Regions from separate parts of the Homo sapiens genome. Here region 1 is linked to region 2. Evidence: fine-mapped expression QTL. A gene starts in region 2. The other region holds a variant in brackets. All regions are shown on one strand. Distances are from middle to middle.

Region 1 (5,383 bases), 35 kb after region 2:
AAAAAGAGGTAAGGGAAAATTAAGAGAAAAAAGTAATAATTATTATATTAATGTATAGAGTGCTTATGTCACTAATAAAAAGGCTTAAGCATTTTGTTGTGGCAGAGTAGAGATTCAAATTAGAATCTGCAGTGTTGTAGTGAAGATACTCTGATAAAGACAAATAATGTAGAAATGAGTTAATTGCTAGTGAAAAGATTTTCAAATTATTTTTATTAGGTAATTTTATAATTTCATAGCAGCTGTTAGGATACACAAACATATATATACAATTTTCTAAACAAGTAAATAAAAGCAGTTTAGTATATCTGCCTGAATTCATATTATTCAAAATCTTACCAAAATATTTATTATAAAAATCAGTAAAATTGTTTAACACATTTATAAAAGTTGCTGGGTATGTATACATAAACATTTTAAGCTTGCTTTACAAAAAAAAGTTAAATTTCTATCCATGTGCTCATAGTGACTTCAAAGGTAGTTCAAAGGGGGAATAAAGAAGGTAGCATTGCCTTGTAATACAGCATTAATTAATACTGACTTACCCTTGGACATTCATGAAAGATCCTTTGTTATCACATATGGTGAAAATATTAAAAATTAATACTCCATTTCTATGAATAAAACATAGAAAATAAGACTTTATTTTTCCAGACTAACTCATTAGCATGAAAGACTGCATTCATTCTGCAGATATTACTGACACCCCGTATTATTTACTTTAAAAATATTTATGATACTTAAAATTCAAAAGGAAACCTGCAAGACCTATTTTTCTCCCAATACATTCACTGAATGCAGATTTAAATGAGTGCATCTCATTTTGATTGTGCCCTTTGTGTACTTTAAAATGACTACAATATAGTACATTTGTATTTTTAACTGGTACCAAAATTAAGATGAATGATCTATGCAAAACCAGTAGCCTGTATTTCTAGTAACAGTTGTCATATGCAAAAAGAAAAAAAGAGCCCTGAGTCAGTATGTTTTTGCAAAAGTAATGAAGGAGGGTGCTCTAAAGTCATTTTATAACTTATAAAATTGTTAAGACTGTCCAGTATTCATTTGCTTTGTTTTCATTTTGATTGAAGAGAGGTATGGTTTTCGTCTAGTAAATCCAATGCAGATCATTTCTTAATACTCAATTTCATTTAAGTCCTCAGAATATCCTGATGATTGTTGAGTTGTATCTTCCATTTCTGTCAGGAAAGACAAATATACAATAACAGTATTTTTATTATAGAAAAATATTTAATTTGTATTCTTGTAGTTTGAGACAGTATCGCAAAGTCCATTTTCAGTCAAGCTTATATGATTGGGAAAAAATATTACCTCCACAGGGTCCTGCCTGAAATTTAACATCATCAATGGCAATATCACTTCTTATTGATACTCCTCGAATGGCTTCAAAAATTATCTGAAAGAATAATATGTTTGAATTTAGAAATAGAATCATCCTGATTACAGTGCTGGTCAGGGCAGATCCAGGCTTTGTAAATATGAAAACGTAGATTGCTCTTGAGGATCCCTTTAAGGAAAAGGATACCAAATTACAAATTGAAATCTAGGTATTAAAGAGAATATTTATTTGGAATTTAAAGAAACACAATAAATTACTGAAGCCTTGAAGATTCAGGTCCCTGTCTTCTGAGATCTCTTTAGGCAATTTCCCAGAAATGCTTGCCTAGAAATGCTTCTTGGTGGTAACCTGGTTTCCTCTTCCCAATTGGAACACTCTTCTCCCAGCATCCCCCAGCACCCACACAGGGTCTGTGAAAGTGAGGGGCTCAGAAATTTAAATTTCCTTTAGCACTCCATAAATCTACCTTTGATACTGCTACGAGGTGGAAAAATTTAATATGACCGATGATACCCATGTGTGAACAGAAAAGCATAATGATGAAGTTTACCAAAGATAATGGTTCACTTATGTTAAATACCATAACATCAAAGACACAGCTCAGGCAGAAGAGAGAATCAGTTTTATAACTTCAGATTCTGAGAAGAAAATAACTGATCAGATATTGTGGTTGTAGGAAAAATAGATTACTTAACCAGCTCTAAGGCTGTCCCAACAATGGTTAACAAATTACTGAATAGTCCAGGGAGGCCCATGGGTAATGAAAGTTGTTCAGAAGACACATTTGCTCTATTCATTTTATAAGCAAGTGAGTCTTCATTGGAGTAGTTTATAATTTAAATAAAAAAGAAAGACCTTAAATTTTATTTAAACCCTCCCTAAAATTAAAGAATATAAATTAAATAATATGTTTATAAAGTTATCTTGAAATTAATG[T/A]TTCAAAGATGCTTCAGTGACAGACTGGTGGCAAAATACTCTTAATAAAAATGCTAAGGATCCAACTCGTGATGGTGGATTTCAGGTGTCAACTTGACTGGGTTAAGGGATACCCACATTGCTGGTAAAGCATTATTTCTCAGTATGTATGTGAGGGTGTTTCTGAAAGAGATTGGCGTTTGAATTGGTGGACTGAGAAAGGAAGATCTGTCCTCACCCAATGTGAGTGGGGACCATCAAATTGGTTGAGGATGCAGATAGAACAAAAAGGCAGAGGAGAAGCAAGTTTGCTCTCTCTTCTGTAACTGGGACACCCGTCTGCTTCTGTCCTTGGACATCAGAACTCTAGGTTCTTCAGTCTTCAGACTTCTGGAATTGTACCAGTGGCACCCTAGGTTCTCAGGCCTTTGGCTGCAGACTAATAGTTATACCATCGGCTTCTCTAGTTCTCAGGCCTTGGGATTTGGACTGAGCTATGGTACCAGCTTTCCTGGTTCTCCAGCTTGTATATAGCAATGGAAACCTTTGCTATATACAATGAGATGCTTGAATATAGCATCTCAGCCTTCATAATTATATGAGCCAATTTCTATAATACATCCCCTTTCATATCTCTCTCACCTTCTGTGTCTGTCTCTCTCTTTCTCCTCTTACTGGTTCGGTTTCTCTGGAGAACACTGATTAATACACAGTGCTAAATAAGAATCCAAATAAGTGGCAAGAAGAGGGAAAAAATGTCCTAACACACCTAGATAAAAGGACACCTGAGTGCACATAATAAGCATTTTGGTTCTCTGAACAACAATAAAATCTGTTTTTTTGGCCTTCAAGTCTGTAATGAAAAGAGTAATAAAATTACCTGAAGGAATTATATTCTGAATAGTCTATGATTTGGCCAGACACTTGATTTTATACAACTTTCTCCTCTGAAATTTCTTAATACAGTAGTGATCACCATTTTATAGTACTATGATTTCCCCCTTGTATTATAAATATGTAGTAATACCTCTTCTTTTTCTACATTGACAATAGGATTAAGCTGACTTATCTTTGCACTTTAAGACTAACCAAATCTATCCAAATCAAATAGCTACTGAGCAAATACTTGTTTATTTAGATAATAGACATAACAAATGTAGGATTAAATAAGATCATATATGTCCTTGGTTCCCAAAGTGTGTGCTGAGGTGCCCCAGGGTGCCCAAGTACATTCATGGGGTGCTGTGGATAGTTTGAAATTTTAAGGGAAACATGGCAATATTCAATACTTAGCAGACACCATGTGAACTGCTAGCTCAATGTCATTCAAAGTTTTAACATGGGATTGTCCTGTATTGCTTTTGATAACATATCTTCATAGAGCTGAGTTTTTTGGTAGCTGCTACAATTAAAAGCAAGCATTGTGTAGAAATCAATGTGGAACATAAAATAAGGGTAGTGTATCCAATCTAATTCCAAGGTTTGGGAAGTTTGTGCCCGACAGGTATATACATTCTATTTGTACATAATTTTGGTTAATAATTAGATAAAATCTTAATTTTTATTTTAAGTATTTTTTCAGATGGCTACTAAGTTGTTAGAACATAAATACTTAAGTTGTTTGAATCCAAATACTTAATATATGAAACTGTTAGGTGTTTCTTCTGGTATTGCGGCACCAAGAAAAAATTACTATGGGCATCATAAACAAGAAAATTTGGAGACCTGAATCTTTTTTTTTTTTTTTTTTTTTTTTTTTGAGACAGAGTCTTGCTCTCAAGCTGGAGTGCAGTGATGCGATATCAGCTCACTGCAACCTCTGCCTCCTGGGCTCAAGTGATCCTCTTGCCTTAGGCGCCTTAGTAGCTGGGGCTACAGGCATGCACCACCAAACCTGGCTAATTTTTGTACTTTTAGAGGAGACAGGGTTTTGCCATGCTGTCCAGGCTGATCTCAAACTCCTGGGCTCAAGAAATCCCCCTACTTCAGCCTCCCAAAGTGCTGGGATTATAGGTGTAAGCCACCGCACCCTGCCAACCTGAGTCTTAGCTGAGTATGCAGTGCATAGAAATTCCTAGTAACTGTTAGGCAGTATAATTAATAATATGACTGATGTAAATATTTCAGTGAGCTGGGAATTTGTATAACACTTTACTTCAATGGCATAAAAATCTAAGAAACCAAGGAGGAAAAGTCATGAAAGCTGGGGAGGAGGGGTAATCAGGGAATCCAAAGGAAATAGAATGATTTTGTGCTTTTGATCAATAGTGAGTCAGTTTCTGCTTAGCACTAATAAATCCCTTAGGAAGGAGCATGATTAAACATTTGCCGTTTGATGCATTTCTTTTTCCCACAGGGATGATCTAATGAGTGGAATGCCTTTAGGAGGCCACCCACATATTTTCCCCATAGGATCAATCTCAAATGGCAGCAGTACTATCACACTCTAAATACCATCTCTACCTGCCCACCCCCATTCAAGCTGTACACATTTACTTCCCTAACTGTGTTCTCTTCCCTGAACTCATCTCATATCCTATTATTTACTTACAACCATTTGGATTTCTAATAGACATAGAAAACTTAACATGTCCCCCCAGAAGTCTATTAATTTTCTTCCTGCACACACTGCCCTCACTCCAGGTCTGCTCTGTCTCAACTCTTCCTCATCTCAATAAATGATATCTCAATTCATTTTAGCAATTGCTCATGCCAAAAGCTTTGGAGTCATCTTGGTGTCTCCCTTTCCCTCAGACTCCACATTCTATACATAAGAAGTCTCGTGGGCTTCTGATGACATCTCCTCACCTCTGCTGCATAGCCTAAGCCATCACTCCTCTTGCCAGGGCTACTGCAGCAGCCCCCAAAGTCTCCTTGTCCCATTGCAGTATACTTTACACGCAGTAGCTGGAGTGATCATTTCAAAATCAGATAATATTACCTTAAAGCTGTATGATGGCTTCTTACTGCTTTTGGAACAAATTTCAAACTCTTTACCACACCTTCTAAGGATTTTCATGATTATCACAATACTTCTTTGACCTCACCACTTGATCAACTTGACTTCTTCTTCCTCTTATTTTCCTTCCTCTTCTTAATATTATTTTT
Region 2 (5,383 bases):
GACTCTGTACATGGTCTTCTAGTTCTTCAATTCATAATTCCTATTGGGCAATCATAACCAGTTCTGCAACTTCATCAATCACCTGTATGCATGACTCCCAAAACTCTCATCTGTTCATATTTTCCTCTAAGCTCCAGACTCCTACATTCTGCCTATAGAACATCTCTCTTAGATGCCACAAAGGAAACTTTAAGTCACAGGATCTAAGAGGCATTTATTATTCTCCTCAAACTGCTCCCTCTTCTGAATAGCACCTGATCAATTAGCTAAGGCTCTTACACTTGGGAAAAATGCTGCATTCCTCCCTTTCCCCCATGCCTCACAACTATTCTGTAGCTGGATCCTGTCAAATCTCATTCCTTCACACTCTGATCATCTCTTGCCTTCGTATTGTCTTTTTGCTTCCAATCTTGCACCCTTTCTAAATCATCCTCTACAGTGCTTCCAGAATAACACAGAACACACGTCATTCCCTGTTGAAAACACACCGTGGCTGCCTACAGGATGATGTCGGAACTTCTTAGCATAGTAAACATACAGGCCCCTGAATGGTTGCTTACCCTTTGTCCAAATACTCATTCACATCCTATATTCTTGCCTTACTAAAATACTTGACGCTTTCTAAATATACCAAACTATTTCAGACAGTTCCTTCTGTCTTCAATGCTCTTCACTTCTTGCAAGACTTTCCTATCTTCTTAGGCGGGTGCAGTGGCTCATGTCTGTAATCCCAGCACTTTGGGAGGCCGAGGTGAGTTTCTTGAGCCCAGAAGTTCGAAACTAGCCTGGGCAACATGGTGAAACCCCATCTCTACAAAAAAATTTTAAAACATTAGCCAGGTATGGTACGCGCCTATAGTCCGAGCTACTTGAAAGGCTGAGGTAGGAGGATCACTTGAGAAGGGGAGGTCCAGGCTTCACGGAGCCCTGATCATGCCACTGAGCTCCAGCGTGGGCAACAGAGCAAGACCAAAGACTTTCATATCTTCTTTACAAAGCCCTTTCTCATACTCGTAGACAAAACTAACCACTTCATCCTTTGTGAAGGATCCTGATATATGTTGTTATGGTATCTAACTCATTTGATTACATTTATCTTTCCTGATCTGGATTCAAATAGCAATGCAACTATGTAACAGCTGCGTAAAACTGGGCAAAATAACCTACTGAGCTTCTTTCAGCAATGGAAATTATCAAGATAGAGTTGTTATGAAGAAAGAATGAGTGCACTATGTACCTGGCACACAATAGGTGCTTGAAAAAAAAAGGTAGTATTGTTATTACAATTCTGTTATCCTTATGCCACTATGTGCAAGCTTTAAAAAGACTTCCGGCCGGACATGGTGGCTCACGCCTGTAATCCCAGCACTACGGGAGGCCGAGGCGGGCAGATCACCTGAGGTCAAAAGTTCCAGATCAGCCTGGTCAACACGGTGAAACCGCGAGTCTACTAAAATACAAAAAAAAATAGCTGGGCGTGGTGGCGGCTGGCTGTAATCCCAGCTACGCGGGAGGCTGAGGCAGGAGAATTGATTGAAACTGGGAGGCGGAGGTTGCAGTGAGCCGAGATTGCGCCACTACCTTCCAGCCCGGACGACAGTATGACACTCCGTCTCAAAAACAAAAACTAGCCGGGCGTGGTGGCGCGCGCCTGTAGTCCCAGCTACTCGGGAGGCTGACCCAGAAGAATCGCTTGAAACCGAGAGGCGGAAGTTGCAGTGGGCCGAGATCGCGGCACAGCACTCCATCCAGCGTGGGCTACAGGAGCGCAACTCCGTCTCAAAAAAAAAGAGGAAAAAAAAAAAAAAAAAGACCTGGAACAAATGAACTGGAAGGTGCTAGGCAAATACATGATATATTTAAAACTTACTAAATTCTAAAGCGGTAACTAGTTGTCTGAAGGGGAGAGGGAGGAACCAGGGAAGAAAACTGGGTTTAGTGGGGTCAAGGGTTTGTAGGGAGGTCCAACAATTGCCAGTAAGTGTTTAATTTTTTTGTACCTGTAACCTCCATTCCCGAACAACCTTTACCGTCTTATCTACTCCTCTCTGGCAAATGCCTACCCTAAGAATCCGCCACAGCATCACTATCACGCCGAATTAACTGTTGCCTCCTCTTAAGTTCCCGGGGACAATACTTCTGTGAATTCCAGACCAGGGCCGCTATGGATCGCGACTCCCAGCGGGCAGAGACCTACTCCCTCCTACAACCACTACCTGCTACATGACACCTTTGGAAAACCTTGGCTGACTAAATTTAAAAACCACATCACCCAAGGCACACATCTCCTACATCATACACGTCAATCTCCACAGCCTACGTAGGAAAATCCTCAAGGGAACCCCGGCACGAATTCAAGGCCAGACCCACAAGCCAGGTACACACCCACACGCCCACGCCCGCGCGCTGCCGGAGCCCCGGGGCCTGCTGGCCAGCACACCTCCACACCCGCGGCGCGGCCTCCGGGCAACTTACAGGAAGTTCTCCATCGAGATGCGGACGATAGAGCCTTCCACGAAAGGCCCGGACGACTGCAACAGCGGCAGCTGCGGGGCCGAATTCTTCCTCTTGCTCGGGACCTCCGACGAAGGGTCTCTCGGGAGAGCTCTCTTGGAAGGCTGGGGGCTTGGAGTTGACGTCTTCTTGCTCGGAGTCGCCATCCTGGCTTCCTCAGCGTCCCACAGCGACTTCCGTTCCCACCGTCCGGCAGCCCAGGCGCCCAAGCGCCCATCCACCCAGGCGCCCCGCTCCCGCGCGAACTGCCGCGAACTGTTACCGCGCGCTCGCTCCCGCGATCTCGCGCCGCGCCTGCGCAGTTCAGGTCCGGCGACGTCAGCAGGCCCGCCCCGCCCCTCCCGCGCTCCGCCGCGCTGTGCGAGGCCCAGACTGAGGGCGAAACAGCAGGCAGGACTGGGTGGAGACGTTCGGGGACGTGGCAACTGGAGTTTCTTCTCCGTATATTTCGGCATTCAGTTCCTTTTTTTTTTTGTTTTAACTCAGGAAAAAATCTCAATTGCGTTTAGTATTTTGAAAGCCACTTTATTGCTTCCCGAGCCTCAGTCATGTGTGGTGGGAGGCTGCTGTGGGTGGCACCTGGGGCGTCCACGGCCGCCAAGGCGGGAGGACGTCAGGCCCTGCTTGCTCCCACCCCTTCCAGGTGAGAGCTCCCGGGCACGCCCGTCGTTGGCTCTTCGTCCTCTTGGTGTTCTTCCCTGTTGCTTCAAATCAGGTTCCTGTCTCAAAAATCCGAAAAAGAAATCCTCCCAAATGACTCTGTGCCCGACGCTCCGTTAAGGCATCGTGCTAGGCGTTCTCAAACTCGTGAAATGACTACACTGCACAGGTTAACCTCATTGCTACTCTTCCCCTTGCCTCCTAATTCTCTGGTTAAACTTCCGCCCCCGAGGTTTCTAGAAATCCCTGAGCTGGAATGCGCTGCCTTCATTAAGAGGGTGTTCTGCTTCCGTCTGCTCACATTCATCTAGTAAGCCCTCTCGTTAAAGAGGAGGCAGCACACCGAGGCCTGTCTAGAACTTCTTTCATTTAACCAACAGTGAATATCTAATCTACAAGAAACTGGAGCCGTGGCAGTTTAGGAGCCTGCCAAGGTTGCATCCCTGGGAGCTTATTTTCTATTGTGGGAGACAGGAAAAGAACAAGTGAATCAACTGTGAAATTAAATAATTCAAACTTAAAGCTGTTGGAACTTTAAATTATTCTGAGCCTTGCGAAGAATGTGGCGATGGGGCCTGAGTCCCATGGCATACAGCTGCAATGTCTGCCTTGTTTTTTCCTATAATCAGGAAGACCAAACAGAGACAGAGGTAAGACCCCCTCAGATCACTACCCCCTTCATAAATTAATATAGTTATCTTCCTTGGAATGTAGCTATCTATAACTAATCTAATCGCTGTAATTTATGCACTGCTCTTGTATTGAAAATGTACTCCTGCTGAACCTTCTCTGTTTCTGCCTGTGTAAATGAAACCTTAACTTCACTTTGGAACATTGACCCTATTTGTTTGGAGTTGGTGTTTCCAGGTGGCTGTCCTCAAGCTTTGCGTTAGAATAAACTCTATACTTAATGATATTTTCTGAATTTCACTACTTAAGGCTGACACAACAAATGATTAGCATAATGTCAGACTGTGACAGGTGTTAGGAAGAAAACAAAATGAACCTGATGGGTGGGAGGTACGGAAGGCCTCTTAGAGAGGTGGTGGTGTTTAAGATAAACTCTGAAGGACGAGAAGAAACTGTGACGATCTGAGAAAAGAGCACCCCAGGCAAAAGAATTTTGCTGGAACATACCAGTAAGGACAAAAGCTCTGAGGTGGGAAGGCCAGTGTTGCTGCAGAGCAGTGAACAAGGTTGCAGAGCAGAACCTTGTCCATCGTGGAAAAGCCTGAATTTTATTTTTAAAGCAATGGGAAGCCATTGCAAAGTTTTAAGCAGGAGAGGGCCATGTTCTGACTAAAGCTTTTAATTTTTTTATTTGATTTTTTTTATTTGATTTTTTTGAGACAGAGTCTCACCCAGTCGCCCAGGCTGGAGTGCAGTAGTGCCACCTCAGTTCACTGCAAACTCTGCCTCCCTCGTTCAAGCGGTTCTTCTGCCTCAGCCTCCCGAGTAGCTGGGATTACAGGTGCATGCCACCACACCTGGCTAATTTTTGTATTTTTAGTAGAGACGAGGTTTCACCATTTTGGCCAGGCTGGTCTGTAACTCCTGACCTCAAGTGATCCGCCCACCTCGGTGTCCCGAAGTGCTGGCACTACAGGCATGAGCCACTGTGCCTGGCCTTAAAGTTTTTAAATAATAATTCTGGTTGCTGTGTGGAAAATGGATTAGAGGGCACCAAGTGTGGAAGTGGAAGGCCACTTAGAAAGCTATTGCAGTAGATCCCTGATTCCTGACTCCTAGACCAAAGCTCCTTTCCCAGGTCTCTGCTGCTTCCTCTCACACAAGGACTCCGCTCCAGAGAAAATAGAGTAAGTAAAAAGCATGTGAACTTGTCGTAGTTACTGGAAATTTTCTTAAATGCAAATGAAAATGAGAGAGACGGGAAGGAAAAATCATTGAAAAAATTCAGACTGCAGCAGCAGCCTACCTGAAAAGTCACAGCAACAGGCAAAAAATAAAACAACCTTGGGAAAACCTCAGGTTGCACCTGGACAGATAGACAGCTTTAAGCACAGATAAACAAGCACAGGAGTGGGAGAGTCTCGACTTCATACTCATACAATGGGCCCCAGTAAAAACTGTGAGACTTAATAAGTACATTCCTTTCCGTTTAGGCCCACTAAGATACGGAAGCGAGAAGCTTATACAGGGAGGGTTGGGGGATGCCTGCAGCTGCAAGAAAATGTCTGGGAACAGACAC

What was found. PIP is the estimated chance that this variant, and not a neighbour inherited with it, causes the effect. A credible set is the group of variants that fine-mapping cannot tell apart.
Region 1: its variant is the best candidate, but not a certain one, in a credible set for the expression of SMC5 in whole blood (INTERVAL, PIP 0.83).

The regions. Positions count from the first base shown.
Region 1 is chr9:70,221,784-70,227,166 of GRCh38, reverse strand. MAMDC2 (MAM domain containing 2) reads right to left here. Exons shown (of 14, transcript NM_153267.5): 13 at 1,333-1,417; 14 at 195-1,199. The coding sequence ends at 1,135. All of the region lies in intron 3 of SMC5-DT (SMC5 divergent transcript), which reads left to right. Among named protein-coding and RNA genes, the nearest start is that of SMC5-DT, 34 kb to the left of the region's middle. The variant T/A (reference allele first, on the strand shown) is at 2,297.
Region 2 is chr9:70,256,356-70,261,738 of GRCh38, reverse strand. SMC5 (structural maintenance of chromosomes 5) reads right to left here and starts at 2,761. Exons shown (of 25, transcript NM_015110.4): 1 at 2,476-2,761. The coding sequence starts at 2,660. It overlaps SMC5-DT (SMC5 divergent transcript), which reads left to right and starts at 2,865. Exons shown (of 4, transcript NR_039990.1): 1 at 2,865-3,343; 2 at 3,804-3,824. RefSeq lists enhancers at 2,475-2,674, 3,005-3,194 and a silencer at 2,715-2,934.